2 separate regions of the Homo sapiens genome follow, and region 1 is linked to region 2. Evidence: fine-mapped expression QTL. A gene starts in region 2. The other region holds a variant in brackets. All regions are shown on one strand. Distances are from middle to middle. Region 1 has its middle 11 kb from the start of VDAC2. Region 2 holds the start of COMTD1 (catechol-O-methyltransferase domain containing 1).

Evidence for each region. PIP is the estimated chance that this variant, and not a neighbour inherited with it, causes the effect.
Region 1: its variant is fine-mapped to the expression of COMTD1 in whole blood (TOPMed, PIP 0.99).

Annotation. Positions count from the first base shown.
Region 1 is chr10:75,198,029-75,200,929 of GRCh38, reverse strand. No RefSeq gene overlaps it. Among named protein-coding and RNA genes, the nearest start is that of VDAC2, 11 kb to the left of the region's middle. The variant C/T (reference allele first, on the strand shown) is at 1,556.
Region 2 is chr10:75,234,739-75,237,579 of GRCh38, reverse strand. COMTD1 (catechol-O-methyltransferase domain containing 1) reads left to right here and starts at 1,623. Exons shown (of 7, transcript NM_144589.4): 1 at 1,623-1,745; 2 at 1,837-1,964; 3 at 2,208-2,313; 4 at 2,402-2,520; 5 at 2,588-2,642; 6 at 2,837-2,841. The coding sequence starts at 1,652. RefSeq lists silencers at 1,375-1,669, 1,705-1,844, 2,005-2,084, 2,215-2,504, 2,665-2,841.

The DNA of each region.
Region 1 (2,901 bases), 37 kb after region 2:
AACAAGAGCCAGACTCGGTCTCAATTAAAAAAGAAAAAAAAAAAAAGGGACTTTCCAGCCAGGCTCAGTGGCTCATGCCTGTAATTCCAAAACTTTGGGATGCTGAGGCGGGCAGATCACTTGACCTCAGGAGTTTGAGGCCAGCCTGGGCAACATGGCAAAACTCCATCTCTACCAAAAAATACAAAATAATTAGCTGGGTGTGGTGGCACACACCTGTGCTCCCAGGTACTTGGGAGGCTGAGGTGGGAGGGTCGCTTGAGCCCAGGAGGCGAAGGTTGCAGTGAGCTGAGGTCGCGCCACTGCACTCCAGCCTGGGTGACAGAGTGAGACCCTGTCTCAAAAAAGAGAAAAAAAAAGGCTTTCCTATTCATTGTTCAGTCAGTAACCTGTGGCCTTGCTCAGAGTTCTGGTTGGAACACTGGTGAAACACTGTTTTGTTTCTTTAAAAAGCTCAGCACAGCTGGGCGCAGTGGCTCACGCCTATAATCCCAGCACTCTGGGAGGCCGAGGCAGGCGGATCACGAGGTCAGGAGTTCGAAACCAGCTTGACCAACATGGTGAAACCCCATCTCTACTAAAAATATAAAAATTAGCGGGCCGTGGTGGCGCACACCTATAATCCCAGCTACTCAGGAGGCTGAGGCAGGAGAATCACTTGAACCTGGGAGGCAGAGGTTGCAGTGAGCTGAGATAGCGCCATTGCTCTCCAGCCTGGGCAATAAGAGTGAAACTCCATCTCAAAAAAAAAAAAAAAAAGCTCAGCACATTCTGTGGGAATGCTTAGCCCCAATAGTGGGGATAACGCAGAGACTCCTGCTCAAGGATCTTCAGTGGCTCCCATTTACCCATAGGATAAGGTCCCTGACACAATGATGATGGAACCATGATCCTATCTTGCCTCTGTCACAGTCATGTTTCCCACCTGCCACCTGTGCCAATTCAGGTCACAGGCAATTCCCAAATCACGGTTTGTTTAGTGTCACTGCCATTGCTTATGCTCACTGTACCTAGAATGCCTCCTTGTCCCCACTGTTTTAAGTTAAATTCTCTGAATCCTTATAAAGCCCAGCTCAAATATACTCCCACCACAATTTTCTTCTGTCTTACCAGCTACAAGTTCATTTTATTTCCTCTGAAATTCTATGGAATTTGTTACCTTATAACATTTATTACATATTTTCTTTTTTTTTTTAATTTTCCGAGTGAACATCATTAACACAATATTTTCGTTTTTCTTTTCTTCCTTTCCTTTTTATATTCTTTTTTTCTTTTTTTTCTTTTCTCTTATTTTTCAAAACAAATGCAGTGGCGCAATCTCAGCTCACTGCAGACTTAACCTCCCAAGCTCAAGCAATCCTTTCACCTTAGCCTTCCAAGTAGCTGGGACTACAGGCACGTGCACCACCATACCTGGCTATTTTTCTTATTTTTGTAGAGACAGGGTCTCTCTATATTGTCCAGGCTGGTCTTGAACTCCTGGGCTCAAGTGATCCTCCTGCCTCGGCCTCTCAAAGTTCTGGGATTACAGGCATGAGCCACTATCCCCAGCCCA[C/T]TTTTTTTTTTATACTAAAAAAAACCAAAAACCACAACTCTGCTTTCCCCATCAAGCTCTTCAATAGAATCTTGCCCTGCCCTGCCCTGCCCTGCCCTGTCCTGCCCTCCTTTCTTTTTTTTTTGAGACAGAGTTTCACTCTTGTTGCCCAGGCTGGAGTGCAATGGCGTGATCTCAGCTCACCACAACCTCCGCCTCCCAGGTTCAAGTGATTCTCCTGCTTCAGCCTCCCAAGTAGCTGGGATTACAGGCATGTGCCACCACGCCTGGCTAATTTTGTATTTTTAGTAGAGATGGGGTTTCTCCATGTTGGTCAGGCTGATCTCAAACTCCTGACTTCAGGAGATCCACCCGCCTCAGCCTCTGAAAGTACTGGGATTACAATTGTGAGCCCCCCGCGCCCGGCTGAGAATTGTTTCTTACTCAACTCTATCCCCACCACCCACCAAATATCTAATAATGATGACACTAGTCATGAATAATAAACACAATCAAAGTAGTCATGGCTAACACATATCAGGCACTTCCTTTGTGCCAGGCATTGCTCGAAACAATTCATGTGCTTTATTTAATTCTCTCTCTCTTTTTTTTTTTTTTGAGATGGAGTCTTGCTCTGTCACCCAGGCTGGGGCGCAGTGGCACGATCGTGGCTCACTGCAACCTCTGACTCCCAGGTTCAAGTGAGTCTCCTGCCACAGCCTCCCAAGTAGCTGGGATTACAGGCACCCACCACCATGGCCGGCCTATTTAATTCTCATAACAACCCTATGAGACAGGTACCATTAAGCGTGAAACACAAGCTTACGGAGATGCACAGGCCTGGCTTGGGATGCATAGCTAGTTCTTCAAGAGCTAGAGACAGAATCTAAGCCAGCTCTCTCTGAGTGTGAGGCGCATACTCTGAGCCACCACTTATATTGCCTCCTCATTGTCAAAGCCTTCCCCATGGAGGGTGACTAGTAATATTTATACAACATTTAAAGAGTCCACTGCTTTGGACTATTCCAGTCATGACTTGCATCCATTGACAGAGTTGCCTTCAAAATTCTTTCCTTTTAAATTTGTAGTGAGGACAGGAGCTTCCACAGTGAGGGTAAATTGGGCAGCAGGGAGGGGGCTTCTCCAAGACCTTTCACTGGGTCACCACTGAGAATGTCTCGTGATTCACATCCCACAGCTGCCTGAATCTACTATGTGGCTGCCCTGTGTCTCTGGGGCCAGTGTGGGAGGCAATGGAAGGAGGGAAAGGGAGCATTCTGAAGCCTGGGAAAGTCACACAGGCAATTTGGCTGGCAGCCGCCTGGACACTCAATACAGAGGGAAGCTGATGAGGAGGCCAGAGGGAC
Region 2 (2,841 bases):
CCTGTGTAAGTCCTCAGCCTGGATTTTCTCATTTGGTCCCCTAGGAGGTTGGGACTATTCATAACGCCATTTCACAGAGGCAGAAGTCGTGAAGCTTAGGCCACCCGCCAGCTGTGTGTGACCTGCATCTCTGAAACCAGCTTCACTAAGAATACCAACCAGAGGCCAGGCACGGGGGCTCACACCTGTAATCCCAGCACTTTGGGAGGCTGAGGCAGGAGGATCACTTAAAGCCAGGAGTTCGAGACCAGCCTGGACAACATAGTAAGACCCCTTCTCTTTAAAAAAAAAATTTTTTTTTTTAAATTAGCTGGGCACAGTGGTGACCGCCTGTGGTCCCAGCTACTTGGGAGGCTGAGGCAAGAGGATTGCTGAGCCTGGGAGCTCGATGCTGCAATAAGCAGTAATCTTGCCACTGCACTTCAGCCTTGCCAGAGACCTTGCCAAAAAAAAAAAAAAGAACACCAACGCCAGGCACAATGGCTCAGGCCTGTAATCCCAGCACTTTGGAAGGACGAGGCAAACAGATCACTTGAGGCCAGGAGTCTGACACCAGCCTGGCCAAAATAGCAAAACCCGTCTCTACAAAAAATACAAAAATTAGTTGGGTGTAGGGGTGCGTGCCTGTAGTCCCAGCTACTCCAGAGTCTGAGGCAGGAGAATCGCTTGAATCAGGAGGTGGAGGTTGCAGTGAGACCAGATTGTGCCACTGCACTCCAGCCTGGGTGACAGAGCGAGACTCAGTCTCAAAAAAAAAAAAAAAAAGGACAGCGTCAGCGTCTTTCACCTCCTCCGGAGTTTGGCGCATGGTAGGGGTTCAATCAGTGTTCTCTGGACAGTGTTTCAACAGAACAACCTTGCAAGGGAGCTTCACCGGCTTTCTCCCCAAGATGTCTTCATTCCAACCTACCAACATAACAGCAGCTGCCACTTATGTATTGTGCTACTGTGTGCGAAGCTGTGGGATCTGGTGCCTTTTATGGTAAGATTGTAGGCCTCATTTTACAGGAAGGAAACTGAGGCTCAGAGAGACTGGCAGGACCAAGATTAGACACTCGTATCCATCTGGCCCCCAAAAGCAGGATTTTAACAGCTAAGAATATGGTCTCAGTTCCACAGGCCCACCCCAGGGCTCCTGAACCCCAATTCGAGGCTGCATGCCCTCAAACCAGTTCCCTCACTCCTTCAGCCTGATGCTTTGGGGCATCTTGTCCAGGAGGCCTTCCCCCTTTAATCTCTATCTCTTGTACTTGTGACTATCTTGTAACTTACACTGGCGCCCTCCATACACAATTCACATATGCCCCCAAGGGGCCTCAGAATAAATGGTGGCGAGGAGAAAAAAGCATTGGCAGGAGGGGAATGGAGGCAGGCACCTGGACTGCGGGCACAGGCGGGAAAATTCAGATCTAGGCGCTTGGCCTGCTCCCCGCAGGGGCGCAGTTCCCGGCGCGGCCACCAGATCGCGCCCGGCTCTCTCGGGCGGGGCTTGCAGTAAGGCTGTGTGGCCGCCAGATGATGCCCGAGACCGCGGCTCCGCGGGTAGTGCCCCGACAAGGTGGAGCCCGGCGGGCCCGCGAGTCCGAGACCTGTCCCAGGAGCTCCAGCTCACGTGACCTGTCACTGCCTCCCGCCGCCTCCTGCCCGCGCCATGACCCAGCCGGTGCCCCGGCTCTCCGTGCCCGCCGCGCTGGCCCTGGGCTCAGCCGCACTGGGCGCCGCCTTCGCCACTGGCCTCTTCCTGGGTGAGCAGGACCTGGTCCCGGCGGGCGGGTGGGCGGGCGCAGAGTAGGGCGCGGCGTGGCTCAGGTTAATCCAACACCCTCTCCCCGTCAGGGAGGCGGTGCCCCCCATGGCGAGGCCGGCGAGAGCAGTGCCTGCTTCCCCCCGAGGACAGCCGCCTGTGGCAGTATCTTCTGAGCCGCTCCATGCGGGAGCACCCGGCGCTGCGAAGCCTGAGGCTGGTCAGCAGGGCGCGGGACGGAAACGGGCGTCCCTCTCGACCCCTGCGGGTCCCACGTGGCTGTGTGACCTTGGGCTGGGCCCTGGCCCTCCCTGGGCTTCCGGCTTCCCTGGGCCGGGTGCGGTGGGCGTTCCGAAGGGCCAGTCCCCCAGGCCACGCCCAGAACCGCGCCCCTGGGGCTTGGGACCCCCAGGGCGAAGGTGGGTGACCTGCATGGCTGGTGCCACCCTCTCCTTTCACGCAGCTGACCCTGGAGCAGCCGCAGGGGGATTCTATGATGACCTGCGAGCAGGCCCAGCTCTTGGCCAACCTGGCGCGGCTCATCCAGGCCAAGAAGGCGCTGGACCTGGGTAGGGGCACGCGGCCGGGATCCCGGAGGGCCGAGGTTTCCGGGCCGACCCCCACTCTGGGCTGAGCCCGTCTGTGTCCTGGTCCCAGGCACCTTCACGGGCTACTCCGCCCTGGCCCTGGCCCTGGCGCTGCCCGCGGACGGGCGCGTGGTGACCTGCGAGGTGGACGCGCAGCCCCCGGAGCTGGGACGGCCCCTGTGGAGGCAGGTGAGCGCCCGCGCCTAGCTCTGCAGCCCCAGGCGGGGGCGCAACGGCTGACCCGCTCCCTCCGCAGGCCGAGGCGGAGCACAAGATCGACCTCCGGCTGAAGCCCGCCTTGGAGACCCTGGGTGAGCACCGAAGCGGGAAGGGCTTTGAAGCCATTCATTGCAAACGAGGCTGCTGTGTGGCCGAGCTGTGACTGGGCCTGCCGGGCAGGTTAAGGGCAGGGCCGGTTGTCACAGAGCCCGGGCCGGCCTGGGAGGGGCCTCAGGGCCGCCGGGGCCGCGGACTCAGCCGCACCTGCCCTCCCTCCCCCCGCAAGACGAG